Linked DNA regions of Homo sapiens. The protein of the gene in region 2 purifies or fractionates together with the protein of the main gene of each other region. This does not show direct contact. Each region holds a gene or a part of one and is shown on either strand. Other genes may lie near its edges. The genes, in order: ACACB, NPTXR, EMID1 and FHIP2A.

What was found.
Region 1: the proteins of NPTXR (region 2) and ACACB purify together in Homo sapiens (affinity purification with mass spectrometry; one large-scale study listed by BioGRID and IntAct). This does not show direct contact.
Region 3: the proteins of NPTXR (region 2) and EMID1 purify together in Homo sapiens (affinity purification with mass spectrometry; one large-scale study listed by BioGRID and IntAct). This does not show direct contact.
Region 4: the proteins of NPTXR (region 2) and FHIP2A purify together in Homo sapiens (affinity purification with mass spectrometry; one large-scale study listed by BioGRID and IntAct). This does not show direct contact.

Annotation. Positions count from the first base shown.
Region 1 is NC_000012.12:109,260,789-109,268,868, forward strand, and holds the end of ACACB (acetyl-CoA carboxylase 2), read left to right. Parts: intron 1-1,568; coding exon 1,569-1,681; intron 1,682-3,443; coding exon 3,444-3,598; intron 3,599-4,321; coding exon 4,322-4,492; intron 4,493-4,600; coding exon 4,601-4,737; intron 4,738-5,447; coding exon 5,448-5,574; 3' UTR 5,575-7,438; downstream 7,439-8,080. UniProt on the Homo sapiens protein: Mitochondrial enzyme that catalyzes the carboxylation of acetyl-CoA to malonyl-CoA and plays a central role in fatty acid metabolism.
Region 2 is NC_000022.11:38,838,790-38,847,403, forward strand, and holds the start of NPTXR (neuronal pentraxin receptor precursor), read right to left. Parts: upstream 5,240-8,614; 5' UTR 5,070-5,239; coding exon 4,446-5,069; intron 1-4,445. UniProt on the Homo sapiens protein: May be involved in mediating uptake of synaptic material during synapse remodeling or in mediating the synaptic clustering of AMPA glutamate receptors at a subset of excitatory synapses.
Region 3 is NC_000022.11:29,250,384-29,254,395, reverse strand, and holds part of EMID1 (EMI domain-containing protein 1 isoform 1 precursor), read right to left. Parts: intron 467-4,012; exon of another isoform or gene 306-466; intron 194-305; coding exon 109-193; intron 1-108.
Region 4 is NC_000010.11:114,857,232-114,864,530, forward strand, and holds part of FHIP2A (FHF complex subunit HOOK interacting protein 2A), read left to right. Parts: intron 1-3,517; coding exon 3,518-3,658; intron 3,659-3,999; coding exon 4,000-4,103; intron 4,104-4,203; coding exon 4,204-4,309; 3' UTR 4,310-7,299. UniProt on the Homo sapiens protein: Required for proper functioning of the nervous system.

The DNA.
Region 1 (8,080 bases), on a different chromosome or scaffold from region 2:
TTCATGGTTTCCACTTCCCCTTCCCAAGGAAGTTTGCAATCAAAAAATAAAAAGGAAAGACCAAAAGCACTTGAACTTCCTGGCAGCCAGGATGAAAAGGGAAATATGATGAGCCATTTATCTCTCATTAGACTCTGAGCTATGAGTTCCTATAGGAAATGTTTTATTCAGTTTTATATCCCAGGGTCTAGCACAGTGCCTTACTCTCCTGGTAGGTGGTCAGAAAATACTGGCTAAACAAATGACTGAATGAATACTTGCATGAGAGGATACCGGTTCTTCGCGGGAGAGGTAACCTCCTTGGCACTTTCCTTAGGAGGAATTTATTCCAGAGATTCTTACAGAAAGGATGATGACAATAATGTTCACAGCACAGTGACTGATGACTTTGAAGTGAAAACTACATGCTACACAGGATGTCAAGGCCTCAAGAGTCATTCTACTCCAAATATAGGCACGGCATTCCTGTGTTCACTCCCTCATTCATTTGCTAATTCAATGAATATCCATTGATTACCTCACTGTATGCCAGCCATTCTGGTAGACATTATGATATGGTGGCAAATGGGCCAAGCTTGTCCTGCATTCAGGGCACTTAGACCCTTGTTAGGGACTGCTGAGGTCAGTCCTCCAGGAAGACTCAGGATACTGAGCAGCACTTGAATGGAGTCATTGCTAACTTTTCATGCTGGCCACCAGGAAGCTCAGAGCTACTGATAGCATTCTTCAGGGCTTCTAAGCTGTCAAAAGCAAAAGGGGGCAGGGGGAGAATAAGGGGTAAATAAAAATGTTGGAAATGAGGCCAGGCGTGGTGGCTCACGCCTGTAATCCCAGCATTTTGGGAGGCTAAGGGGGGCAGATCACTTGAGGCCAGGAGTTCAAGACCAGCCTGGCCAACACAGTGAAACCCCGTCTCTACTAAAAATACAAAAATTAGCTGGGCATGGTGGTACACGCCTGTAATCCAAGCTGCTCGGGGGGCTGAGGCAGGAGAATCACTTGAACCCGGGAGGCAGAGATTGTAGTGAACCGAGATAGTGCCACTGCACTCCAGCCTGGGTGACAGAGTGAGACCCTGTCTAAAAAAAAAACAAAAAAAAAAAAAAAGAAAGAAAAGAAAATGTATGTTGGAAATGGGAGGACAGCTCACACAAGACTACACTGGGCTCTCAAGGTGCTTTTGTGAGATTTAAAGCGATCAGAAACAGTGCCCCTCCTCTAGGAGGGCAGAAATTAGCAAAGTTAGAGAGGACTGTGGCTGGAGAGCAGGAGGGTTATGCTGCCATGGAAAAAGTCGTACACTCTTAGACCTGAAAGGGGCCCTCCAGAGTTCAGAAAGCATTATTTTAAACAGTTGGCTCAGTCTTTCCATCTGTGGGTAAAGATACAGAGGCCCAGAGAGGGAAAGTGACTTGTCTAAGGGCACACAGCATGTGTGGGGGTAAAAGAGCTGAGGACTGACACCCAGATCTTCTGGCTCTCTTCCCTCCAGCTCCCCCCACATCCATTAGCCCTTGCTTGCTGGGCAATGCCTCATATACCCCCATCCCTGCCTCTTCTCTTTTAAGGGGTGGTGTTCTGGAACCAGAGGGGACAGTGGAGATTAAGTTCCGAAAGAAAGATCTGATAAAGTCCATGAGAAGGATCGATCCAGCTTACAAGAAGCTCATGGAACAGCTAGGTAAGGGGGTCCCAAAGGCTTCACCTCTCAGAGGTCAAGAGAGGCCCAGCTGGCCCACTGCTGGGGGTTTCTAGGATGTTAAAAATAAAATGAAAAAATACCAAAATACAGCTATAATAACTGTGAGATTTTTAAAGATATTCACATTTGTCTGTTTGTTTTGTTTTGTTTTTTTGAGGTCTGGCTCTATTGCCTAGGCTGGAGTGCAGGGTGCAATCTCAGCTCACTGCAACCTCTGCCTCCCAGGCATAAGCCATCCTCCCATCTCAGCCTGAGTAGCTGGGACTACAAGTACGCAACACCATGCCTAGCTAATTTTTGTATTTTTGTAGATGTGGGGTTTCGCCATGTTGCCCAGGCTGTTCTCAAACTCCTGGGCTCAAGCAATCCACCTACCTCAGCCTCCCAAAATGCTGGGGTTACAGGCATGAGCTACCATGATTGGAGGACATTCACATTTCTAAATCAACCTTTTTAACATTATATATATATATATATATATATATATATATATTGCCATCGTGAATTTATTTCTCAGCATACACAAAAGATAGCAATTGAAGTATTTGGGGCTGATGGGGATTATCAGAATTTTGGTGGCAAAATGTTCCTTTAGAATTCCCAATCAGAGATAAGATATTTTACTAATTTTGTTTGAATGACAGCTTTGTTTTACTTGTCATCTTTAGATGTAATTATCTTTATTTATTTATTTGTTTATTTTTGAGACAGAGTCTTGCTCTGTTGCCCAGGCTGGGGTGCAGTGGCGCAATCTCAGCTCACTGCAACCTCTGCCTCCCAGGTTCAAGCGATTCTCATGCCTCAGCCTCTCAAGTAGCAGGAATTACAGGTGTGTGCCACCACACCTGGCTAATTTTTGTGTTTTTAGTAGAGACAGGGTTTCACCATGTTGGCCAGGCTGGTCTTGAACTCCTGGCCTCAAGTGATTTGCCTGCGTCAGCCTCCCAAAGTGCTGGGATTACAGGCGTGAGCCACTAAGTCTGGCCACAAGATGATATTTAAATATCCATTTTAAGTGTCAGTGTCTTTATAACTGTGCTATTCACAAGATTTTTTACAGTGTGTGCGTGTAATTTCTTTGGCTGGTATCAGGGTAATGCTGATCTCATAGAATGAGTTGAAGTGTTCGCTCCTATTTTCTGAGTTTTTGCAGAATTGGCATTATTTCTTTATGTTTTTGATAGAGGTTTTTACCTATAAATTCAACTTCTTTGTTATATATAGGACTATTTGTGTTATCTGTTTCCTCCTAGGTGAGCTTTGGTGGTTTGTGTGTTTCAAGGAATTTGTCTATTTCATCTTAAGTTGTCAATTTGGCATAGAGTTGCTTATAATATTCCCTTATCATATTTTACAATGTGTACTAAAAATCATTGATATAGTATCCTACAAGCACGATGGGTCTGATGGAAGGGGAAAATGTAGAGTTGCATGTTGAATGCTGTCTTGCAATTGTGAGTGCATTTCTGAGACTGTACTAGCTATTTGATCTGAGACAAAGGGGGCCATCAAGATGGGCCTGGGGTGGGGGCCAGGCCAGTGGACTCTGGGGGACCTAGGGGGCTGAGGGCAGCCTGTGTAGCAGCAGGGGTAATATCAGAGTTAAAGCTCAGACCTCTCACAAGGCAAGGCCTGTCCTGCAAATCCTGATTTGTGCCTTCTTCAAAAAAAAAAAAAAATCTCCACCCCATCACATATGACCAGCTTCCATGGCTTGACTGGCCTTTCTGCTCACCTGCAGGGGAACCTGATCTCTCCGACAAGGACCGAAAGGACCTGGAGGGCCGGCTAAAGGCTCGCGAGGACCTGCTGCTCCCCATCTACCACCAGGTGGCGGTGCAGTTCGCCGACTTCCATGACACACCCGGCCGGATGCTGGAGAAGGGCGTCATATCTGTGAGAGCCACAGCTGCCGTGTAGGGTGCAAAGAGCCCACCCTGTTTTCCAAAACATGGAGGACATTTGGGCTCGGGGGCGGGGAGGGCGGTGGTGGTTGGGATGGGTCAAATGCTGCAGGAGGTGGGAGTCACCTGGGAACTTTAAAATAATCCCGATCCCCAGGTGGCACTGCAGACCAGTGAAATCCAAACACCTGGATGGAAGCCAGGCGGTCGTATTTTTTAAAGATCCCCAAGAGATTCTAATAAGCAGCAAAGTTCAGGGACCACTAGTCTGATGGCTCGGTCAGTTTGGACCTGGACCAGGGGTAGAAACCGTTGTTCCTGTCCAGCATTCACCCACCCCTCACCATTGCAAGGACTCCCACAGTCACCTCCTACCCATGTCCAGTGCTCATTGGTTCTCTTGCTGCATTGTTCTCCCTCCCAGCTGACTCATGCCTCACACGAGCCTGTGTTTGTGTCGGTTGAGGTAGAAGTGGGTGCCAGGTTTTTATGGGGGACATTTTTTCAACTATGGCCAGTCTGGAGTCCTGGTGACGTCCTGCCTCTGAGCAGGTGCCTTCTCCTCCCTGAGCCTCAGCTTACTTGCCTGGGATGATCTGGGAATGATCTCAGAGCCTGGGCCCAGCCCCGGGCAGCCACTGTCATGGGTGTGGTCAGAGCCAGTGTCCCGTCTCCTCCTTCCCTTTCCGGGGATTCAAGCCTGGCTCGTCCACAGGACATCCTGGAGTGGAAGACCGCACGCACCTTCCTGTATTGGCGTCTGCGCCGCCTCCTCCTGGAGGACCAGGTCAAGCAGGAGATCCTGCAGGCCAGCGGGGAGCTGAGTCACGTGCATATCCAGTCCATGCTGCGTCGCTGGTTCGTGGAGACGGAGGGGGCTGTCAAGGTGGGCCTGGGGTGAGAACGAGGCCGGTGAGCACAGGGGGTGCTGGGGGCTGAGACAGCTGGCCCACAGCTGGGTCCCTCTCTGAGGCATCCTCTGCCCCCTCCCCAGGCCTACTTGTGGGACAACAACCAGGTGGTTGTGCAGTGGCTGGAACAGCACTGGCAGGCAGGGGATGGCCCGCGCTCCACCATCCGTGAGAACATCACGTACCTGAAGCACGACTCTGTCCTCAAGACCATCCGAGGGTGAGTGGCCACCGCACCTGCTTCCCAGCCTCCTGGCAAGGACCCGAGCCTGGATTGACCCCTAGCTACCCGACTCCTATGCAGCCACTTGAACCCGCCACCCTGTGCAGTCTGGGGTTGTCCCCGCCCCCTCCCCGCTCCCCAGCAAAGAGACCACACTCCCTAATGTCGGGTCTCCCAGCACAGTGGCTGGGGTGGGACAGAGAGCCTAGAGGTACTCTGAAGGCCGTGTGAGATGCTTCCAACTCATGAACCTTGCTGGAATATGGACTTGTCCAAAGTCACAGCTGGAGCAGGGTTGGTCACAGAACCCACATTTGGAACCGCTAGCCTTCAGGCTGCTGTCTTCCACGCCAGTGTTGACCTTTCCAGAGGGTCCCCTCCCCCAATTGCCATGGGGTCACCCCGTGAAGGAGGGAGTCGAGCACAGGGGACCCCATTTTGGGGATGAAGCTGAGACTCAAGGCAGTGTCTTGTCTCAGGTCATGTCACAAAGCAGTGACCAGTAGGGACGGTGGTGCCTCAAGGCATTCTGAACTTCAGGTCACAGCCCCTCCTGCTGCACAGGACCATCACCCCCATGGGGACCACAGCAGGGACTCGGGAGCTCTGGGTTCTGGGGTGTGGCCCCACACAAGGACTCTGCCACCCTTGGGGCCACTGAAAAAGTGGCTGGAGTGATCCCAGCCCTCCTCTCACCTCCCCCACAGCCTGGTTGAAGAAAACCCCGAGGTGGCCGTGGACTGTGTGATATACCTGAGCCAGCACATCAGCCCAGCTGAGCGGGCGCAGGTCGTTCACCTGCTGTCTACCATGGACAGCCCGGCCTCCACCTGACCGTGGCCCGCCCAGCCACTCCCGGGACCACGGCAAAAGGAACCACCCAGACCCACCACCCGTACACCCTCAGCAGACCCTGAAGACTTGCTTTTAAACAAAGAAAATCCTGGGCACTTCTGCAGGGCTGCTGGTTCCGAGCTGACACCCGTCTTAACAAAAGGCCCAGGAGTGCCTCTTCCAAACAAAAACAGCCTCCTCTCCATAGCTGGGAAGTTTATTTTGTTTTGTCTCTGAAGACAGCAGTTTTATTGCATCACTAAATCTAATCAAGCTAAAACATCCCTGTTTCCTTTTGCAAAACAGTGCCTGGCATGTGGGATCCAGGCGTTCTTTAGGATCCTTGGATACCACATCGTGAAATCTTTTATTTTTTTACTCTGAGACCAGCACCAGATGTAAGTAAGCATCTCATATATTTCAGCCAAATAAATGGGCCAAGGGAAAAAAATATATATATATAGACAGGACTAGAGAAAACCTATTTTTGTAATGATGTTTCTTTGGATACTGTCTAGTCACCCAGAAAAATGTATGGATGAATTTTTTTTTTTTTTTTTGAGACAAAGTCTCACTGTGTCATGCAGGCTGGAGTGCAGTGGCATGATCTCACTGCAACCTCCATCTCCTGTCTCAGCCTCCTAGATAACTGGGATTACAGGTGCCCACCACCATGCCCGGCTAATTTTTGTATTTTTGGTAGAGACAGAGTTTCACCAGGTTGGTCAGGCTGGTCTCAAACTCTTGACTTCAGGTAATCCACCCACCTTGGCCTCCCAAAGTGCTGGGATTACAGGCATGAGCCACCATCTTCAGCCAGATGATTTTTTTATTGAGAGAGTGAAATGCTATTTTGTTCCCCAAATGGCGCTAGTGAATCACTAGGAGGGTCCCACTGATAGGCCATGTTTAGCACTGGTTGCCAGGGATTCTCTTTTTGAGAGAGGGAAAGCAAAATGAATGGAAGTACCCAGCTGGAGGTTTCAGGGCTTCTGGAGGATGCTCTCGCATAGCTCGAGGTCCTCTGCCCACCTCTTCTCTCCAAGGAAAATGAGGACTGCCCCTTCCCCCTGCAGGATTGGCCCCCAGCCTGCGCATGCACCCTCCTCTTGCCCAAGTGGGGAGCACAGAGGCGGAGAGGAATCCCTTACCACACCCACGGCCCAGCTTGCTCACGAGTGTCACCTCTGTGACGGTCACCACTGCTCCCTTGGAGGGCCACTTGAGTTACTGTTGCTTCCTCGCCTGCTGGCTTGATGAGCACCGATGGTGGGATCTGACCCCGAGGGGCAGAGCTGTCGGTGACTGAGGACTGGACTGTGGTGACCATGCCGATTTGCTCAGGGAGAACGTTGCAATGCACCCAGCAGCTCCTGGCTCTGCAGGCGGCACAGCCTGGGGCCCTGTGATCCTCTGGTTTCTTCCATTGGGGCGGAGTCGGGGATGGAGGGAGCTGGCCACAACCCACTGCTCTGATGGGTGGTTTGTCCAAGGATGCTGAATGTAATGCCTGGTCAATGTGGAAGCCCATGAGGTTGCCCAGGGAAGCCTCCAAAAGCTGGGATGCTTGAGGGTATCCAAGTTGAAAAAGACAAAATCTGACCATCAGCCAGTGACAGTCCTGGCAAATGAAGGTGGGGCGGGGCAGTGAGGGGTGGGAGAAGGTGAATGATTCATTATTCCACCCCGAGGTTTGCTGGGGTGAGGGGAAGAATCGATGCTGCTTTGGGAACTGAAGGTTTTTCTGTTGGGAAGGCCCTCTTGGTTTTGGAGAGAAAGACAAGTTATGAGTAGCTGCTACCCTGGAACGGTGGGCAGAGAGCCTACTAGGAAATGTGCAGAATAAACTATTTTTTGAAGGAAACACTTTGGCCTTGACTTTATTATCTGGATTGGAGAAGGCAGGTTGCCTCCAGGAGCAAAGGTAGGCGTTCACCTTTGCACCCTCCATTCCTGACACCACAGCTGAGACCTTGAGTGAGTTCCCATCACAGGGGCAGACGGGGATGCAGTGAAGGAAGCTGAAGGCTAGACTGAAATGGACAAAGTCATCCCTTTTTGAAAGCACTGGGGAAAAATGTTTTAGAAAATTATATGCAAGCCTAGTCTATACCACAGGCAAAAAGGGAGCTTCTCTGGAAGAAGGGGTTGGGGGTTGGCCCAGGCACTTCACGTGCGAGTTCCATTCCTTTCCACCACCTTGATCCACCCCTGTTGTGCAGATGAGGAAGCTGAGGCACAGAGAGGTGAAGGCATTTGTCCATGGTTATGCAGAGACGGAATCAAGTCTGCTTGGCTCCAGAACCCAGCCCTTTCCTTTTATGACCTAGGTCCTTGGTGGGCAGGCTTAAGCCACACTTAGGAGTTGGTTTTACATGGACCCAAACTGCAGAAGAACCCCCTACCCGCCCCCCACCGTGGCTTCTCAGCACACAGTGACTATTCAATTTTGTCTCCAAAACACGTAACAACAACTGTTACCTTGATTCTGCCTGACACCTTTTCC
Region 2 (8,614 bases):
CCAGGATGGTCTCGATCTCCTGACCTCATAATCTGCCCACCTTGGCCTCCCAAAGTGCTGGGATTACAGGTGTGAGCCACCGCGCCCAGCTCACCTGTCTTTTCCATGCTCCCAAAGGTGGGTGACGTCTGACCCCTCCAGATGGGTCTAGAGTTGATGATGAAGAACGAGGGCTCTACAGCCAGACAGTGGGCTCCACTGCTGCCTTGGGGCCAGTTCCTTAACCTCTCTGAACCTTGGTTTCTTTGTACCTCCCTCACAGAGATTTTACAAGGATTAAATAAGATAATGCACTGTGCCTGCCGCATAGTAAGTGCTCAGTAAGTGTTCGCTATAATGGTTATTTGGCTCCCACTCCAGGATGGGAGGAGGCAATCAGCTTGCTGGGCTGGGTTAAGGATGTGGTTTATGCCAAAGAAATGCTGTTGAAATTAATCTTGAAGTTCCGTTGTATACATACATTAAATTAGCACAAAAATGGAACAGGGGAACACACATGCATGGCCTGTAGCCGCATCATTGGGCCAACTCTTGGAAAGTGGCTCCTGGCCTCAGCCATAAAAAGTCAATATTGGCCAGGCACAGTGGCTCACGCCTGTAATCCCAGCACTTTGGGAGGCTGAGGTGGGCGGATCACCTGAGGTCAGGAGTTTGAGACCAGCCTGACCAACAAGGTAAAACCCCATCTCTATTTAAAAAACAAGAATTAGCTGGGCGTGGTGGCACATGCCTGTAGTCCCAGCTACTCAGGAGGCTGAGGCAGGAGAATCGCTTGAACCTAGAAGGCGGAGGTTGCAATGAGCCAAGATTGCGCCACTGCACTCCAGCCTGGGCGACAGAGCTAGACTTTGTCTCAAAAAGAAAAAAAAAAAAAGTCAATATCCTCTGACCCAGTACCCAGTAATACCACTCCTGGGAATTCAGCCTAAAAAAATCAACAGACTTAAAAACAAACAAACAAACAGCTCTCTGTATGAAATGGATCCTGCAATGAACATCTGGAAGAAAAATAATTAGAAACAACCTACATCTCCAGTAACAGGAGCCAGTCAAGTGACTGATGGATGGGGAGCTGCAGATGAATCCCAGGATATTATGGCATCATTAAAATGGTAATTACACAGCAGCTCTCAAACAATGGCTGCATATGGATAAGGACTGAAAGAGGGTTGCAAAAAGGGAGAAAATGACGCAATTGAATGCAGCATTTTCCCCAAAACCTTTTGATTTATTTCAATGAACAACAATAACAACACAAATAAAAATGGAAAAGAAGACACTTTCCCCTAAGCCCTTAAATGTGGCTCCCACTTGAGGCTTTGGGGAGAGGACAGGCCAATCAGACCTTCCCTTCCCTTTTGTAGGAGGGGTGGTGATGCAGGGATGTGCCTGGTGGGGACCAGCAGGGAAGTGTGATGATTATGGAAGCCCAGGTGGGGATAGGAAGGGGACAGAGTGTGAACAGGGATGGCTCCTGAGAGGAGGTGTACTTGGAGCAGACTCTAAGATGTGGAGCAGGAATGTGCTGGGGGTGATCCAGGCAGAGGCAGGAATGAACTGAGAGAGGGGTCAGGAGCGGGGGCCAGATCCAAAGTGGTAGCCTAGGAGCAGGCCGAGGAGTTAGGAGAGCCCCATGGTGGGCTTAAGGAAGACCCTTGGGGCTGCCTGGAGGAGGATGGAGGGAAGGGTGTGCCTGGAGTCATGAGACCAGAGAGGAGGCTGCTGCAAGCGTGTACAGAGATGAGGCCAATCAGAACTGGGGGGAGAGGGAGGGGCCAAGGATGGTTTCTCAGGGCACATGGAGGTACCTGGTTCAAGCTGAAACACAGTGTGGTTAGGGGGCTGATGGGACAACCAGAGAGAGATGCTCAGGAGGCCGATGTGTTGATGGGTCTGGAGCTTGGGAAGGAAACCTGGGCTGGACACTGAGTTTGGTTTGGGGCCCCTCCGTGGAATGGGTGTGGGAAGCCTCAGGGCATGGCTGAGTGTACCCAGGGAAAGTGAGGGCCAAGACGGGCACATGCCTTAAAGGAGGAGGACCCTGCAAGGAGACAGAGGCAGCAGACAGAGGGAGGAGGAGGGCTGCTGTGAGAGGCGGCTGGAAGCCCAGGGCATGGAGACCTGCAAGAGGGGATGATCAGCAGGGTCAGGTGTCAGAGAGGGTTCCCCCAAGATAAGGACTGAGAAGTCCTCATTTATCATCTTGGGGACATTAGCAAGAGCACCTTCAGTGTATCCTGGGAGGGAAAGGAGACCCTGAAAATCTGGGCACTTTGAGGATACTGAATGAGAAGAGAGGGGAGAGATTGGACAGTGGCTAACGGGTGCATGGGACTCCGCTGAGCCAAGTGGTCTCACCCTGTGTCTGCTGTGCTCCAGCTCCAGCCCCAGCCCCTCCCAGAGGCCCCCAAAAGACTAGCTGTGGCTGTTGCCACGCTCAGAAAGCAGACCTGGTGGCCAAGCAGGGCCCCGCCCTTCTCTGTCTGTGGCTGCTGCACTCAGAAAAGAGGAAAAGGTATACATGGGGAAGCCAGGGCTCCCCCAGCCTGGAAGGCTGACCTGTTGCCAAATTCCAGCTGCCAGGATCCCCCCAACCTCAGCGGGCTAACCGGAAGGGAGGCCACCCTGCCAAATGCTGCAGGTGCTGGGGGCACAGGTCCAAGGCAGGTCCAAGCCTGCCAGCCCCAGACGTGGGAGGAGCCACCTGTGCCATCTGGGCGTGGGGGCAGGGGCTATGGCAGGCACGAGGAAGTTTATTCAATGAAAGTCAAAAATTGTTTTTTACATGACTAAAACCTGTTGCCTAAAACCTGTTTGTTCCTATTTTGAGTTTTGGCTGTATTTTAAAAATGAGTAATATTATAGCTTAATGATAAAAATAGCCATCACTCAAATTGACTGAACATACCTGTGTGCCAGGCACTATTCTTGGCCTTTCATATAAAGTACTTAATCCTCCTAATATCCCAGTGAGGTAGGTGCTATTACTATCCCCATTTTACAGGCGAGAAAACTAAGACTTCCCTTCATTGCATACTTTCACCTTTTTCCTGATTATTTTCCTGCTCTTGGTTCTCTCATCCTAGAAATCCCCCAGAGCTGGAGTCGGGGAAGAGGTGGGTATGGGCCCGGCTTTTCTCCTGCCTCTGCCACCTCTCTTAGGACGTTTCTGAGCTGAGTTTTCTCATCCGTAAGGTGAGGGGTTGGCTGCAATGGCTGACTGGCTGCACTCTGACACCCTGTGGGGAGGGTGCTGACACCAGTACAGACGTCCTGGAGGGCTGTCAGACCACGACATCCTCAGCCTTGTGAGTGGGCATCACCAGTGCTGCTTGCCCAGGATTTAACTTAAAAAGCCCCGGGAGTAAGGGGTCCCTGCATTTACTCCCCGCCTCTCTCCTCCCTCCAACTTGCCTGCTGCACTCCACCTGGGTGGAGGTAGCAGAGGGGGCAGCGCGGGCTTTGGCCTCTTTCTCTCTCTTCCTTCCACAGATCTGATTTTGTTGCTTAACCCCCTTCCTTGTGGTCTGGAAGTCAGGCCATGGCTGGGGTAGTGAATGTGTCCCGGATGTTTGTCCTGCCCAGTCTGTCTGCCTTGCACTTCTGGGAGCCCCAAATTCATTCTTACAGGGAGGAAGGTGGCCATGGGACTCCAGGGGGGAAATGACTGGCCCAGGGTCACATGAGAGCCAAGAGTGGGTTCCCCCATGCTGGACCCCTTGTGTCTGACCCCAAGCCTGAGTCAGGAAAGCCTGGAAAAGTGAGTGGAGGAGGAGGAGCTCGGGGGGCCCTGTTCTCCATTCAGCCCCCACCCAAGAGCTGTGGGCTTCCAGGTGTGTGAGGCTGGGCGCCTGGCACCTGAGCTCCTGCGGTTTGGGTCATAGTCTGAGCCAGAGTGGGAGATTCAGGGTAGGGAGGTGGTGAGGGGCACCCAGGTTTGTCTTATAGGGCACTCTGTTCCCGGCTCTGTGTAATGAGGGGAGGACCCCAAGTCCTTTGGACAGCGCATCCATCTCCTGGCCATAAAGTGTGAGCGTGGAGCTGGGCTGATTTGGGGGTGTCCGGAAGAAGGAAATGAAAGGGACATTTAATGAGGTCCTAGTACGTGCCAAGCATTTTCACACACCTACATTTGATTCAATTTCCACTACAAGTGGACACTGTTATACCTATTTTACAGACACAGAAACTGAGGCTCAGAGAGGTGCCTGGAGACGGAAAAGGGTGGGGAGCGAATCTTTCTGGCGCGCCCTCTGTGCCTCAGTCACCGTGCCAGACGCCTGCCCGCGTTCCCTATCGAAATCCCCCCGCCTCGCCAGCGAGGAAGGCGCGATCGTCCCCGGAACACAGACGGGAGACCGGAGGCTCGGGGACCGCCGGACGACCGCGGCCGGGCGGCCCCTCACACCACCCGGGCGGCTCCCCCGACGGCGCGCGGCGCTCACCTCCAGGCGGTCGATGCGGTCCCGCAGGGCGCGCACGGCGTCCTCCAGCTCCAGAATGAGCGCAGGCGAGTCCCAGGGCCCGTCGGCCATGGTGTCGCGGCGGGGCCCGGCGCCCTGGAGGCCGCGCGGCAGGCCGCTCTCGCAGCGGCCCAGCTTGCCGGTGAGCTCACGGATGGTGTCCTGGTCGGCGCGGATGCGCGCCTCCTGCTGCAGCGCCGTCTGGCGCAGCTGCTCGGCCGTGCTCTGCAGCAGCAGCAGCTCTTCGCGCTCGCCCGGCGCAGCGCCCGCCGCGTCCCCCTGCTGGGCCCCCGACGGGCAGGCAGCAGCCAGCGGCGTGCACAGGAAGCGGCTGAACAGGGGCCCGGGCGGCAGCGGGTGCGCGCTGGCCGCGGGTGCCCCGGGCAGCGCGGGGGGCCCGGCTGAACCGCCCGCGCCGTGCAGCGCGCTCAGGCTCCGCTGCGGGCCCGGGGACGCGGCGGCGCCCGAGGCGACCGAAGCATTGTCGGCGCCGCCGGGCAGCGCCCGCGCCGGGCTGGCCGCCAGGGGCACGCTGGCGATGATGCAGATGACGGCACCGAGGAACGCCAGCATGCCCGCGGCCAGCAGCACGGCCAGGAACTTCAGCGTGAGGCGGGCGGCGGGGGCGCCCGAGGCCCCCGGCAGGCGCGGCGGCGGGGTCGGGGCGCGGAGCCCGGGCGCGCTGGGCCGAGCGGGGCAGGCGCGGGAGCCGGAGCCGGAGCCGGAGCCGGAGCCGGAGCTGGAGCTGTCGCCGCGGCCGCTGCTGCCGCCGCTCTGAGCCCGGGCGGCGGGAGGAGGAGAAGACGGCAGGCGGCGGGGAGGGGGAGCGGGCGCGGCGGCCCCGCCCCACTCGCTTCCCCGGGCCGGCCCTGGCCCCGGCCCAGCCCCGCACCCGTTCAGTGCCGGGCGCCCGGCTGGGGGCGCCGCCGGGGATGCGGCGAGGAGCGAGGGCAGCGCCTGGGACCTTATCTCGCCGCGGTCACAGCGCAGGGGCCGGCGACCCGAGGGCCGCGCGGCGGGGCTCCTGGGTGACCCCCATCCCAGCCCTCCCGTGCTCGGGCCCCCTCCCCAAGCCGGTTATGTTCACATCCACCCGGGAGGGAGCTTTCTTCCGGGTGGGGCTGTGCACTGGGCGCGCCACAAGCTCGGTCGCAATTGAGCCTTGCCGTGGACAGGCTCACAATAGAAATGAGGAAACTGAGACACCTGAGGTCAGGCCTCTGTCCAAGGTCACCGGGTGGCTGCGTTGGAGCCGCCTGCGAGCTTAGGCACGTTTCACCGGACCAGACTGTGGATGGGGCTGGAGTGGGAGCGGTTAGAGGTGGAGAAGAGGCCAGTGTTGGGGGTTGGGGGGAGGCTCGGATTTTGACCTAACTTCTGTTTATACTGTGGCCACCTGCCCGTCACCCCCACCTCCAACCTTCTGAAGGAGCAGAGTTCACTCCCCGCCACCCTCATTACAGAATCTTCCTGTGATCTCAGAGGATGATGGAAATTCTCTCCTCTGAATCCTTGGGGGCTTAGAGCCTCACAGGTCCAGAGAAACCCCCCACCCCCACTGCAGTCTGCCTTCGTTGGCAAGCGGTGCCACGTGCCTGGTGGGCATGTGGACCAGGCCCAGAAGGAACAGCAGGAATGGGAGTGGGCTGTGCTGTGGGGGTGGCAGAGGAGCGTTTTACTTTCTTCTGTCAAAAATGTCTATATATATTTTGTTGAAAATTAACTTTGCAATTAAAAACTTAAAAACAATCCTACTATCCTCCACACTTTATCCCCAGCTCCAATTTTCCATGAGGTCTTTCCTGACCAATACGGATTCCCAGGGCTGGAAGGGCCTTGGGAGGGCTGTGGTTATTCCCAGCTCTGTCTCCCTTCCAAGCCTGCATTTTTGACTTGAAGGGAAAGCGCAAACCAGGATCTCTGGACCACCACGGCTACCACTGTGGTTTCGAGTGTACTTCACATAGCGCTGGTGGTGGGGAGAGACCGGAATGTTTCCCAGGAAGCCACAACCCTGGGGGACGCTCTCCAGCCACGGGGATTTTGTCCAGTGTTCCCAGGCACACGTGCTCCACCTCCCTCTCTCCACACATGTTAGGATGATGTCCACCCTGTTCACCCATCTCTAGGAGCCAGGGATTTTCATCCATACCTGAGTTGTGAAAGAGGAGAGAAGCAAACACAAGCGCTGTATGCCAGGAACCTGAGTGCTGTGTGTGCGTGGATGTGTGCTGGTGCTCACTGAAGTCGTAACCTCAAAACCCAGGGCAGGCAGCTGGGCTTGGAGGAAGCATCTCATGGACAGAGAGATGGGCTGGGCTCTTGGAAGGCAAAGGCCAGCGGTAGGCCCTGCTAAAGTCCTGGGGATGCATGAGACATCGGGACTCCTGGTACATCTACACGTGTGCCGTGAAGACAGAAACACGGAGATAGCATCCCCAGGAGAAACTGTCATAGGAAGTCCAGGGAAGGACAGGAGATGCCAAGAGAGAGGGCTGCTGCCAAGAGCAGCAGAGCCACTGTGACTTGGGCACCAAATGGTGCCACCTTTACCTGAGCTGCCCCCTGAGACTTTGGGGACAGTTTGGATAAATGGGTCCAGAGGCTGGAGTCAAATTGTGTTTAAACTGGTCTGTTGATCTCCTAGAATGACTTTATTTTTTATTTTATTTTATTTTTGAGACAGAGTCTTGCTCTGTCACCCAGGCTGCAGTGCGGTGGCGTGATCTCGGCTCACTGGAACCTCTGCCTTGCGGGTTCAAGCAATTCTCCTGCCTCAGTCTCCCAAGTAGCTGGGACTACAGGTGCACGCCACCACGCCCAGCTAATTTTTGTATTTTTAGTAGAGATGGAGTTTCAATATGTTGGCCAGGCTGGTCTTGAACTCCTGACCTCAGGTGATCCACCTGCCTCGGCCTCCCAAAGTGCTGGGATTACAGGCGTGAGCCATGGCGCCCAGCCTCTCCCTTCTTCCTTGGCCCATCTCTATCCCCAGCATTCAGCATGAAGCCTGCCCAGGGAAGCTTCTCGGTGAATGTTTGCTGAACTAGTTCCTAATGCCACTGCTGGAGGCAGAGGAAGGAGGAGAGGACAGAGAAGTCCCAAAACTCGTCTCTCCTGGGTCCTGGGAGAGACCCCCCTTAATCCTAACACAGGATTCCTCAAGGGATGGGCAGAGAAGTATTCTCAGGGGAACTTCCCTAAAACTGGAATAGTTCCTATATTTTCCCTCTGAATTGTCATGACTCCTAGTTTTTTTTTTTTTAAATTTCTTCACTTTCATTCCATTCTTAGGCCAAGGGAATTCTGCCATATATAACAAATATAGGAATTCATTTTAGAAAATATGTTTTGAGACCTACATTGTGCCAGGCATAGTGCCAAGCATTGGAGAGAGCTGGGAACAAGACAAGCTCACGCAGTTTATATTCCAGTGGGGAGGCAGGCAGTAAACAAATGAATAACTAAGTAAACAAGTTAATTTCCAATAATGATGAGAATGACAAAGAAAAATCTTCAAGTGATGTTATAGAAAGTTACAGGAAGTAGGAAGGGGGAATTGGGAGGTGGGCAGTATTTATAAGGTGGTCAGAAAAGGCCTGCATTGGAGCTCAGACCTAAATGACCTGGGAAACCAGCCATGCAGAAGTCTGGGGAAAGATGGTGTGTTCTAGGCAGAGGGAACCGCTAGTGCAAAGGCCCTGGGGCAGAAAGGAGCGTAATATATTTCAGGAACAGAAGGAACAGAGTGGGGCTAGAGGCAGAGTGAGATGTAGGGGAGGGAGGAAGCTGGACAGGAAGGTGGGGGCCGTGTAGAGATTTACAGGCTCCGGGAAGGGAGTGGGTCTGACTCGAAGCCCAACTGGAGGGCTGAAGCACGGAAGTGATATCACCTGGACTGTGTTTTTAAAAGACCACTCTGGCAGTTGTCTGGAGACTGGGTTACAAAGAGATAACAGAGGGCCGGGAGCGGTGACTCATGCCTGTAATCCCAGCACTTTGGGAGGCCAAGGCGGGTGGATCGTTTGAGGTCAGGAGTTCTAGGCCAGCCTGGCCAACATGGTGAAACCCCGTCTCTACTAAAAATACAAAAATTAGCCAGGTGGTAGTGGTGCGCGCCTGTAATCCCAGCTATTCGGGAGGCTGGGCAA
Region 3 (4,012 bases), 9.6 Mb from region 2:
CTTCTCCAGCCTCATGACTGGGCTCAGGCCAGTTCCACCCCAGGAGGGCTTGGGGAAGGCTGGCAGGCAGGGGCTGGGCCGTCTGTCCGTCTGTCTGTCTCTACTCACCATAGAGCCCAATCATTGTTTCCAAGATTAAAACCCTCTCAGCTAAAATCTTCAAAGCCTCGCGTAGCTGGTGCAACCCCTCCCCCTGTGGAGGAAAGAGACAGATGCAGCCGTGAAGGGGGCAGGGGAGGGGACCCTGCAAAGCCCGTCGGTGGCCCATGCCCCACCCGGGACATGCACCTGCAGCCCCACACTACCTGCCACAGCCCAGGGTCCATGGACAGCCAGAACAAGACCAGGTGAGGACAGGAGGGGGACAACAAGGCAGACGGAAGGAAGCAACCCCTGCAGGACCTCCCAGAAGGTCCCGTTGGATCCCAGCTGGCTGCTCTCTGACAAGGCCGCAAATCCTGCTGCGCTGAAGGCAGGGGGAGCCAATCTTCAGGGGCAGAACGGCAGTCCCAGAAGCTGCTGGGAGCCCTCCTGTCCTCTAATGTCTGTCGCCCAGCACCAGTTGCTCTCCCAACACCTGCATGACTATATCTCTTGGCCACCTATATGCTTATTTACTTCACATTCTTTTTGCTTTAAATCACCACATTAGCCTCACCCTAATTACTCCGATCAGTGAGTTCAGGCTACTTACCAGTATTTCCACTTATGCCCAAATGAATATATAGATGTTCCTTGACTTTCAATGGGATTTCATCCAGATAAACCCAGTGTAAGTTGAAAATATCACAAGTCAAAAGTACATTTTTTTTTGAGACGAAGTTTTGCTCTTGTTGCCCAGGTTGGAGTGCAATGGCGCGATCTCAGCTCACCGCAACCTCCACCTCCCAGGTTCAAGCGATTCTCCTGCCTCAGCCTCCCAAGTAGCTGGGATTACAGGCATGCACCACCACACCCAGCTAACTTTGTATTTTTAGTAGAGACAGGGTTTCTCCATGTTGGTCAGGCTGGTCTGGAACTCCTGACCTCAGGTGATCTGCCCGCCTCGGTCTCCCAAAGGGCTGGGATTACAGGCGTAAGCCACCGCGCCCAGCCAAACACATTTCTTTTTTTTAAGAGACAAGGGTCTTGCTATGTTGCCCAGGCTGGCCTCGATCTCCTGGCCTCAAGTGATCCTCCTGTCTCAGCCTTCCAAAGTGTTGGGATTACAGGCGTGAGCCACCATCCCTGGCCAAAAAAGTGCATTTTTGACATACAATATTTTCAACTTACGATGGGTTTATTTGGAAGTAAGTTGAGGAATGTACTGAAAGCCTATATTGCTTTCGCACAATTGTAAAGTTGAAAAATTGTAATTTGAACCATCGTAAGCTGGGGACCATCAGTATGTCAATAAAATTAGACAAGGTTTGAGTTACATTGCTTTTGGAGAACTTGCGCTTAAAATTCTGAGAAACCTGAGGCTCAGCACTCTGTCCCTTCCCCAGGTCTTCACGCTTTGGGCTCCCTGCCTGGAAAACAGTGCTCACCTCTCCCAGGGCTTAGACTATGCCAGGTCCACAATCTGGCACATCCTGATGCGTCACCCTCAGCCCAGCCCTCTCCTCTTAGCAGTACGGGTCTGCTTCTCCCTGTCTCTGGCTCCCAGACCCCAGGGATGTGGCACTGGGCTCACAAAGCCCCTCCTCCAAGGCCACCAGCTCTGGGGCTCCCCACTCCCCAAGTGGTACCAGCTGCTACCCAGGGCTCATGCCAGAGACCTCATCTCTTTCTCCCCATCTGCATCCTTTCCTTCCCCAGCATATGGTCCATAGTCTTGACAACGCTCCACACTCCCTCACTCCTTCCTCTTTCCTAGTCCAGACCAAAGCTATTTCCAGAATGTAGATCTCTCAATTCCAACAGTGCACCAGGATGACAAATAGAACTATCCCAGCTCTGACAACATCTGGAAATCTCTCTTGGTGCCCTTTACTCAGTACAGATAAGTGAAGGGATAGACAATATGCATAATTGTATAATTACAAGCCAACCCTTTAAGGTTGCTGCTTCCCACAAAACCATCTAAACAACTAAGAGGTCTCTCAATATGTCCATCATGAGTGAGCCTGCTCGCTGGGGCTGACCCTTGTGATCCAGCTGTCCTGTCCACATCACATGGATCGGGTGACCCTCAGGCCGCTGAATGGCCATTTCAGCCTGGGGGTCCCAGGGTCACCACGAGCTGCATGCCAAAGTAATCCCCTTTCGAGTATTACAGGGGCAGGATCTAAAAATGAATGACCTTCGCTAGGCACAGTGACTTACACCTCTAATCTCAGTGCTTTGGGAGGCCAAAGTGGGAGCATCACCTGAGGCTAGGAGTTTGAGACCAGCCTGGGCAACATAGCAAGACCCCATATCTACAAAAAATTTAAAAATTAGAGTGGGCACGGTAGCTGTCCTGTAATCCCAGCACCTAATGACACTTTGGGAGGCCAAGGTGGGCAGATCACTTGAGGTCAGGAGTGCAAAAGCAGCCTGGCCAACATGGTGAAACCCCATCTCCACTAAAAATACAAAAATTAGCCAAGCTTGGTGGTGTGCACCTATAGTCCTAGTTACTTGGGAGGCTGAGGCAGGATAATCACTTGAACCCAGGAGGCAGAGGTTGCAGTGAGCTGAGATCACACCACTGTACTCCAGCCTGGGTGACGGAGGGAGACTCCATCTCAAAAAAAAGAAAAAAAAATTATTTGGGTGTGGTGGCACACACCTGTAGTTCTGGCTACTGTGGAGGCTGAGGTGGGAGGTTCACTTGAGCACAAGAGTTTGAGGCTACAGTGAGCTATGATTGTGCCACTGCACTCCACGATGGGTGACAGAGCAAGACCATGTCTCAAAAAACGCCGGGGGGGCTGGCATGGTGGCTCACACCTGTAATCCCAGCACTTTAAGTGGCCAAGGTGGGAGGATCACTTGAGCCTAGCCAGGGCAACATAGTGAGACCCCATCTCTAAAAAAAAAAAAAAAATGGCCAGATGCAGTGGCTCACGTCTGTAATCCCAGCACCCTGGGAGGCTGAGGTGGGTGGACTGCTTGAGCTCAGGAGTTCCAGACCAGCCTAGCCCACATGACGAAACCCCATCTCTACTAAAAATACAAAAATTAGCCAGGCATGGTGGTGTGCGCCTGTAGTCCTGGCTACTTGGGAGGCTGAGGTGGGAGGATTGATGCCCAGGAGGCTGAGGCTGCACTGGGCTGAGATCGTACCACTGCACTCCAGCCAGGGCGACAGAGACCCTGTCTCAAAAAAAGAAAAAATTAAAAAATTAGCCAGGCGTGGTGGTGTGTACCTGTAATTCCAGTACTTTGGGAGGCTGAGGTGGGAGGGTGGCTTGGGCCCCTGAGGTCGAGGCTGCAGTGAGTCATGATCATGCCATAGCACTCCAGCCTGGGCAACACAGCAAGACCCTATCTCAAAAAATAAAAAATAAAAAAAGATGATCTTAAAAAATTCCAGGCTGAGCACAGTGGCTCACACCTGTAATCCCAGCACTTTGGGAGGCCTAAGCGGATGGATCACCTGAGGTCAGGAGTTTGAGACCAGCCTGGCCAACATGGAAAAACCCTGTCTCTACTACTACTAAAAAAAAAAAAAAAAAAAAAAAAAAAAAAAAAAATTAGCCGGGTGTGGTGGTGCATGCCTGTAATCCCAGCCACTCTGGAGGCTGAGGTGGGAGAATCGTTTGAACCTGGGAGGCAGAGGTTGCAGTGAGCCGAGTTCATGCCATTGCACTCCAGCCTGGGCAACAGAGCAAGACTCTGTCTCAAATTAAAAAAAGAAAAAAAAAAGATAAAATAAAATTCCATGAAGCCATTCCTGGCATGGACAATGGGACAAGCTGACATCATGAGCTTCCTAACGAGGTACAATAAAAGGCACCACAGGTGCCCCTGCCAAGATTATTTAGCCTGCATCTCATCATGAAGAAACAATCAGACAAATTTAAATTGTGGGACATTCACACAA
Region 4 (7,299 bases), on a different chromosome or scaffold from region 2:
TTACTTTCTTTCCTAAACATTTTTGCCGGAAGTGATACTTGCTTGTAGTTTCTTTTTTTTCTTTCTCTCCCTATTTCTTCTTCTTTTTTTTTTTTCTGAGACCGAGTCTCGCTCTGTCACCCAGGCTGGAATGCAGTGGTGTGATCTTGGCTCATTGCAACCTCTCCCTCCCGGCTCAAGCGATTCTCCCGTCTCAGCGTCCTGAGTAGCTGGGATCACAGGTGCACACCACCACGCCTGGCAAATTTTTGTATTTTTAATAGAGATGGGGTTTCACCATATTGCTCAGGCTGGTCTTGAACTCCTGACCTCAGGTGATCCACCTGCCTCGGCCTCCCAAAGTCCTGGGATTACAGGCATGAACCACCACGCCTGGCCTTCTTCTTTCTTCTTTTTTCTTTTTCTTTTGTTTTTCTCTTTGCAGGGCATTTTCTTAGTATAGATTCCTAATAGGGTCTAGGTAACTTGACTGAGATTAAAAATTTAATATGAATAGTTTGGCAAGTGGCTAATGTCTTCATGCATAATTGAGAACTTACAGTATCAAGTATTCATAACACTATTGTGTTATCACAATGCTAATTTGAAAAAATTCATAATACAAACATTTACTATTGTTTGTAACGGTGGTGATTTTAAAAAGATAGTAAAATACTAAAGCCCATAGCAGAATGTAAAGAACACTGGGAACATTGTAAGGAGGCCAAATCTTGTCCCTGCCCTGAGCATGATGAGTTTGAATTTGATCAAGTAACTTAGCTACTTGTCACATTTTCTAATTGTTAAAGTGAAGTTGATATTACTTTTTTAAGTCAAAGTTTATTATCTCAAAATTTGAGTTCAGTCCAAAAACATGGGCCAAGTCCATTTGTCATGTCAGAGAAATCTGGCTTGCTTTCCTTTCAGGTAAATACTGTATAAAGTATAAAATAAAGGGACCTCAAGTAATAGATATAAACACTTAACTACCAACAACTTCCAAAAAGGCTAGCTTGTTTTAAAGTTATTACCAATAGGAAGTAGAGACCATTTCAGAGTACAGTGAAACAAGTTTATCTTGTTGAAATTTATTTTCATTTTTACTACGTTGAGAAATAATCTGTGTCAGCCTTAAATTTCTTAAGCAACCTATGACCTACATTTATGTTAAAATAAACTACAAACCAAGGTAACACCACACAGAGAAAATACAAAGTCTAAATAGTAATGTATTTGTTTAAAGCCAAATTGTACTGATTTATTTATTTAAGCACCTGCAGATGGCGAAATTTAGTGACCTAAAAATCTTAACTACCTGCAGTGAAGAGTCATGTACAATTCTGGACTTAAGTTGTATTTTAAATTTTTTCTACTTTTTTTTTTTTTTTACTAAATGCATTCTTTTAAATTATTTTTTGTAAATGATTCCTTCATACCTAAAATACAATTTAATGTGAATTCATTGTTTATTATGAGTTGAGTCTCAGAGAAGGCTATTCTGTTGCAAATATTATCAAGGGAGGAGGAATGGAGAGAAGTTGGTTAATGAGTCCAAAAGTACAGTTAGAAGAAATAAGTTCTAGTATTCAGTAGTACAGTAGGGAAATTAGTTAACAAAAACGTATTGTATATTTCAAAGGAGCTAGAAGAGAACTGTGATGTTCCCAACACGAAGAAAAGATAAATGCTGGAGGTGATGGATGTCCCAGTTACCCTAATTTGGTCATTACACATTACACATTGTGAAATGTATCAAAATATCACATGGACCCCCCCCAAAATAGGTACAATTATGCTATATCAATAAAAAATACCCAAAGCCCCCAAGTATTACCAAGTAGGAGAATTTACTCTTAAACTATCCTTTACTGGGAATACATATTTCCTTTCAATTACCTTGCTTACAGCTAGGTTTTGAAAAAAAATAATAAATGACTTGGAGCAGTTTTTAATTCTTTAAAAAAATCCATGTTCATGAATCTAGTAGTAAGTTAGAAAGACTAAAATGGGCCTTACAGCATAGGACTTGAGAGTTTCTGTTTATGTAACAAAACATGTTCATCGTAGCGTCTGTAGCTGTGGTGATTTTCAAAAGATAGTAAAATGCCGAAGTCTGTAGCAGAACTGGCGTGTGCCCGAGCATTCTCCACTGAATGCCAGAGATTGACTTCCTCATTGCTATTCACTGTGATCAAGGCTTTGCAGGTTGTTCAGTGGCTGAGAGTGAAACATTCCGCTGTGCTGGCTGATGTTGCACTTGGTCCTGACTCCCTCTTCCCTCCACTGTGCTGCAGTGTCTGTCTCACTCTTGCCACCTGGGTTCTCTGCAGCCTCCTCACTGTAGTTAGTTTTGTTGCAACCAATCCGTTTCCTTTGGCTGCTTAGAAGAAGCAAACTGGAAGGGGTGAGAAGTTTCTATTGAAAGTTCTGAGCAAGTAGTAGCAACTCCTTGTGTAGTGTGCCTTTTGCTTTGTTGACATGACTCTGTAAAGCCCCTTTCTGTGAAGAATAAACAGACAATTAGAATTCAAGTAAAATCACGATATTACATGTAAAACAAGTGTGAGGAACTGTACACAGATATACAGTTGTTTGGAGAAAGTTAATACTCATGCAAGAAATGAGATGATCCCTCTCTGTAATCACCATTTTGAACCTTCTCATCCACTTTGAGGCATAGGGTCGTCATCAGTTCTATCCCCAAGTACTTTCATTTCATTCTGGTGACAAGGTTCTGTGATTCGACTTTATTTTACTGTATGTGTTTTTGGGAATTGGCAGTAGTTGAATAATCTGAGGTGAGGAATATCACTTCTAAAATTACTATATTTAAAAAGGTGTAATATCTTCCCATCTTGTTTTTTGGTCTTATGCTCAATGGGTCCTCTGTAATTAATATTATATATGACACACTGGTGCTTTTTTATGACCCCTTGAACAATTTCATTAATTGAATCAACCTGCATAAAATAAACATTCTGACTCTGTCACATATTTGTCTTTATATGTTTATATATTTTTTAAATCTTTAAAGTTTTAGGCCTGCAATATATGTAATTTGAGATGATGAGAGCTAGTTTAGTTGTAGATATTTTCATTGCAGAAGAGCATGCGCAGCAGGGAGGAAGATGGTGGATTCTGCTTTCTTTTTTTTTGTTTGAGACAGAGTTTCGCTCTTGTTGCCCAGGCTGGAGTGCAGTGGCGTGATCTCGGCCCACTGCAACCTCCACCTCCTGGGTTCAAGCAGTTCTCTTGCCTCAGCCTCCCAAGTAGCTGGGATTACAGGCATGTGCCACCACACCGGGCTAATTTTGTATTTTGAGTAGAGACGGGGTTTCTCCATGTTGGTCAGGCTGGTCTCGAACTCCCAACCTCAGGTGATCCGCCCGCCTCAGCCTCCCAAAGTACTGGGATTACAGGTGTGAGCCACTGGGCCTGGCCAGATTCTCCTTTCTTAAAAGAACAAATTGAAATAGTAAATTAAGCACACCGGTATACATTATTTTTAAATGTCTTTCTGTTTTTTATCTCTCCATAGCCATATGATGTAAACTTACAAGTAACCTCAGTGTTATCTAGACTTTCTCTCTTCCCTCATCCACACATCCACGAGTACCTTTTGGATCCTTACGTGAACCTCGCTCCTGGCTGTAGATCTCTCTTCTCTGTAATTGTCAGGGTGAGTTACTAGTTCTGTTATATTCCCTAGGATTGATAAATCTGTGCAATTAATATGTTAATATCATTGTATGCAGTTAGTGTCACATAATGAAAAATATATCTACTGCTTAAAAGTAATTATTATACATTCTGAACTACTATTTTTTCAATTATTTTAAATAATATGTAACTTTTATTTTAAAGAATTAGGTATGAGTCCTTGGTTAAAGATGATTATATGAGTAGTGAAAGTTTACGTTCTTTATTAAATAGTAGGGAAGGAAGATTTTTCTTTTTAGATCCTGAGGTTGTCTGTGTAGCTGATTTCAGGAACTGAAGTGCCTTGCCTCTGTGATGCAGGTTGTTGGAGACCTTATGCTTCGAATCCAGCGTATTCAAGACTTTACTCCCAAGCTTCTGTTAGTCAGAAAGCGGTTACTTGGTTTGGAACCTGAAGGCCCTATGTAAGTTAGTGTTTTACATTTTTTTAATCCAAAAATTTCAGTGAACTTAATGATCGGCTGCTATCTTGAATTGATTTATTGTCTGTTTTTTCCTTACCAGTATTGACCACATCACACTGCTAGAGGGTGTGATTGTGTTAGAAGAGTTCTGTAAGGAGCTGGCGGCAATCGCATTTGTAAAATATCATGCTTCCTCCACACCATAAATAACATCTTTCATGTAACTGGGGGAACAGAACTACTGTGTACATTTCACCAAAAAAGACTCAGTTCCACCCAGCCACAAGAGGATAAAAAGCCTTTTTAAACGCAGTATTGCTGTAAACTGGACAGAACCATTAAGAACCTATTGAGTGGACATTCTTGGTGAAATGTTGTATAATGTTGTTTTCATTGGCTTTATCATAATGGTTCTATATATACAATTGCACATTGTTGAATCCAGGATACAATCAAAGGAACTTCAGGAAATAAGCATTTCTAATGACTGTGAAAAGCTGCAATATTTCCAATGTCATGACTTTGATGATATTTCTGTTATATTAATGTCCTTTTAGGTAGCAAGGCATTTTGACATTCTCTGGGACTCAAATGCTTGTATTCTTTTGGATTAATAAGTAGCAAAAAAAAATCACTAATTTTATAACTTTTTAAGGTCAGAATTCTTATCAAACAAAATATGAAAACTGTAAATGAGAAAAAAATACAATTCAGAAACCATTGAATGAATTAATTATAGGCGATAAAAATGTGTAGAGCACCATTAACTTTCTTCAGCTTTTTTAAGAATAACAATTTAATATGATAAATTCTTGATTAATATAATATATCTATATTTTTAAAGAAATGTTCTTTTACTCTTTTGTGCACATAGCCATGTTAGTGATTTTCTTCATGTGTGGGTCCCAGTTTATTTAAACTGTGTCGTTTTCGCAGCAGTGTTCAATTTGCTCACCATTGGTAGTGTTTGCTAAAATTGTATTTTTTTAAGCTAAGTAACATGTACTGGGTTGAGAACCTTTTTCCCCCCTCTCCCTCTCAGAAAATTGCTTTATAAAATTGCTTTATAATTTGATTTTCTTACTGAAACGCATGGTGGTGTCTAGGTGGGGAACTGACTGATAACCCTTGGCAGCAATCAAAGTGCCAGTGGCTCCTCGATGTTTACATTTTTTTCTATTTTGTTCAGTCTTTTGTTTTAAATGATTCTAAAGAGATTAAAGAAAACAGAGTTTTAAATGTCCTATTTACATGTTAAAGGATTTGGGGAAATTGGGTATGTATGTGAATGGGTGTACATGTAGGAACCTGTAGTTCAGCAAAGCTGCGCTGGGCACAGCATGCTTGTACTTGATTGACAAAATCGTGTTTGCCAGTCCACTTTCTATTTTTCCTTTAAGTGATGCTGATCACTCAAATAATGCTTTTAAGCTATTGTTTGTTTTTATTTGACATGTTAAGCCGCAGCACTTTCTTCTTCATCTTTCCATTTACTGATATTTGGGGGAACAGGCTATCAAAGGTTCCGGCTTGAAGGGAACTGTCACTACCCCCTCTAGGAAGTTATTTTATGTAGCATGTTTGCATATACGCATTGTGTGGCATGTGCATAGAGGCTTGTTTTACACCTATCTGCTCATTTTGTTGTGTTAGCTTTTCTGGTTTATTTCATAGTTTGTTCTTGCTATTTATTAAGAACAGAATATCAAAAGATTATGAATAGCCTCAGCTCTAGAATGCTTACCACTGTTAAAACAACAAAAAGACTAAACCTCTAATTTCATGCAAATCTTTGTTAGCTTATTCTAAGAAATTTATTAAGTAAAACAAAGAAAAAACAGAAGTGGGAGATAGTTATTTTGTGCGTAATTTTCTTTAAATCATTTTGAATGATGTGAAGGCATTCAGTTTGCTGTATTTTTTTAATCACTTCATACAAGGAAAACTTCGACATTTACATTTCTAGATGTAGTAACAGTCTACTTTGATATATGAGTATTTAAACTAAGGCATTAAGAGATATTAGATATTTCTTAATGTTTTCATAGTGCTCAATAGGTGTAGTAGCAATGATATTACCTCTGAAACCAAATACTCTTTTATCCTTGATTCCACTATGGGACCTTATAACTAGTCCATGAAACCAAGCTCAGAAAAGCTTTAACTCTTATATTTGTGTATATGTATGCTGCTTCTGAAAATATAATTTTTCTAAGTTGTTGTAATGACTTTAATTTGTAATCAGCTAAGGCTTAAGATTTCATTTGTTTCTAAGTTTCTGTTTTTCATCCCTTCTTTTTTCTTTTATATTTAGTTCAGACCTAGAGCCAGTAGAAGCTCTCACAGTGAGTTCAATTTGTTAGTGAAACATTGTACTGCATCACCAGTTTTTCTTACCTTCTGTTGACAGCTGAATATTTCTGTTACTCAGTACTTGCAAAAACAGTAACTAAAATGCACTATGCTGAGTGGAAAGCACCGTCATAACAATTGATTGCCATAGCAAGTTCCAAAGTGAATTTCAGCCTTGCTTCACATTTGTATCAATAAATATGCACATTTTTTAAAACTTTCTAACAATATAGTCTTTGGATTTGTTTTTAGTTATGAGCCGCATTCTTTACTTGATAGAACTCAGATTTGTCTTAGCCTATTGCCATATAGTACTCACCTTATAACTATGTAACTTTCTCGTAATGTATCTGTTTGTGCAATATGGAAGCTGTGAGTGGATTCATAGCTTTTTGGTTTAATTGTACATTATTGTGTGTGTATATATGTATATATGTATATATATAAGGACCAAAATTCTTAGCTCGCTTACACTGTTGCTAGTGTAAACATTGTTACACTTAATTTTACAGGGCACAAATTATGGAATTACTTCATAAATTCATGGTAATGTTTTCATAAATTATTGCATTAACATACAATTGCCATTTAATTATGAAGTCCATCAGTATTGACAGAAGACGTTACAGTGAAGTGCTAAAACCACACTATATGGTAATTATATTTTGGGTTATGTAGTAAATCAAATATGCATGTCATTGTGACACTTTATGTGTTAAAACATGGTAGATAATCACATTTTCTGGGCCCTGTAAAATAGTGTTACTGTAATACTCTGTTTTGCCTCCTGCCTTGTTTACATTAAACAGGATATTTGGTAAATTTTTTTGTATTGAAAGTTGTG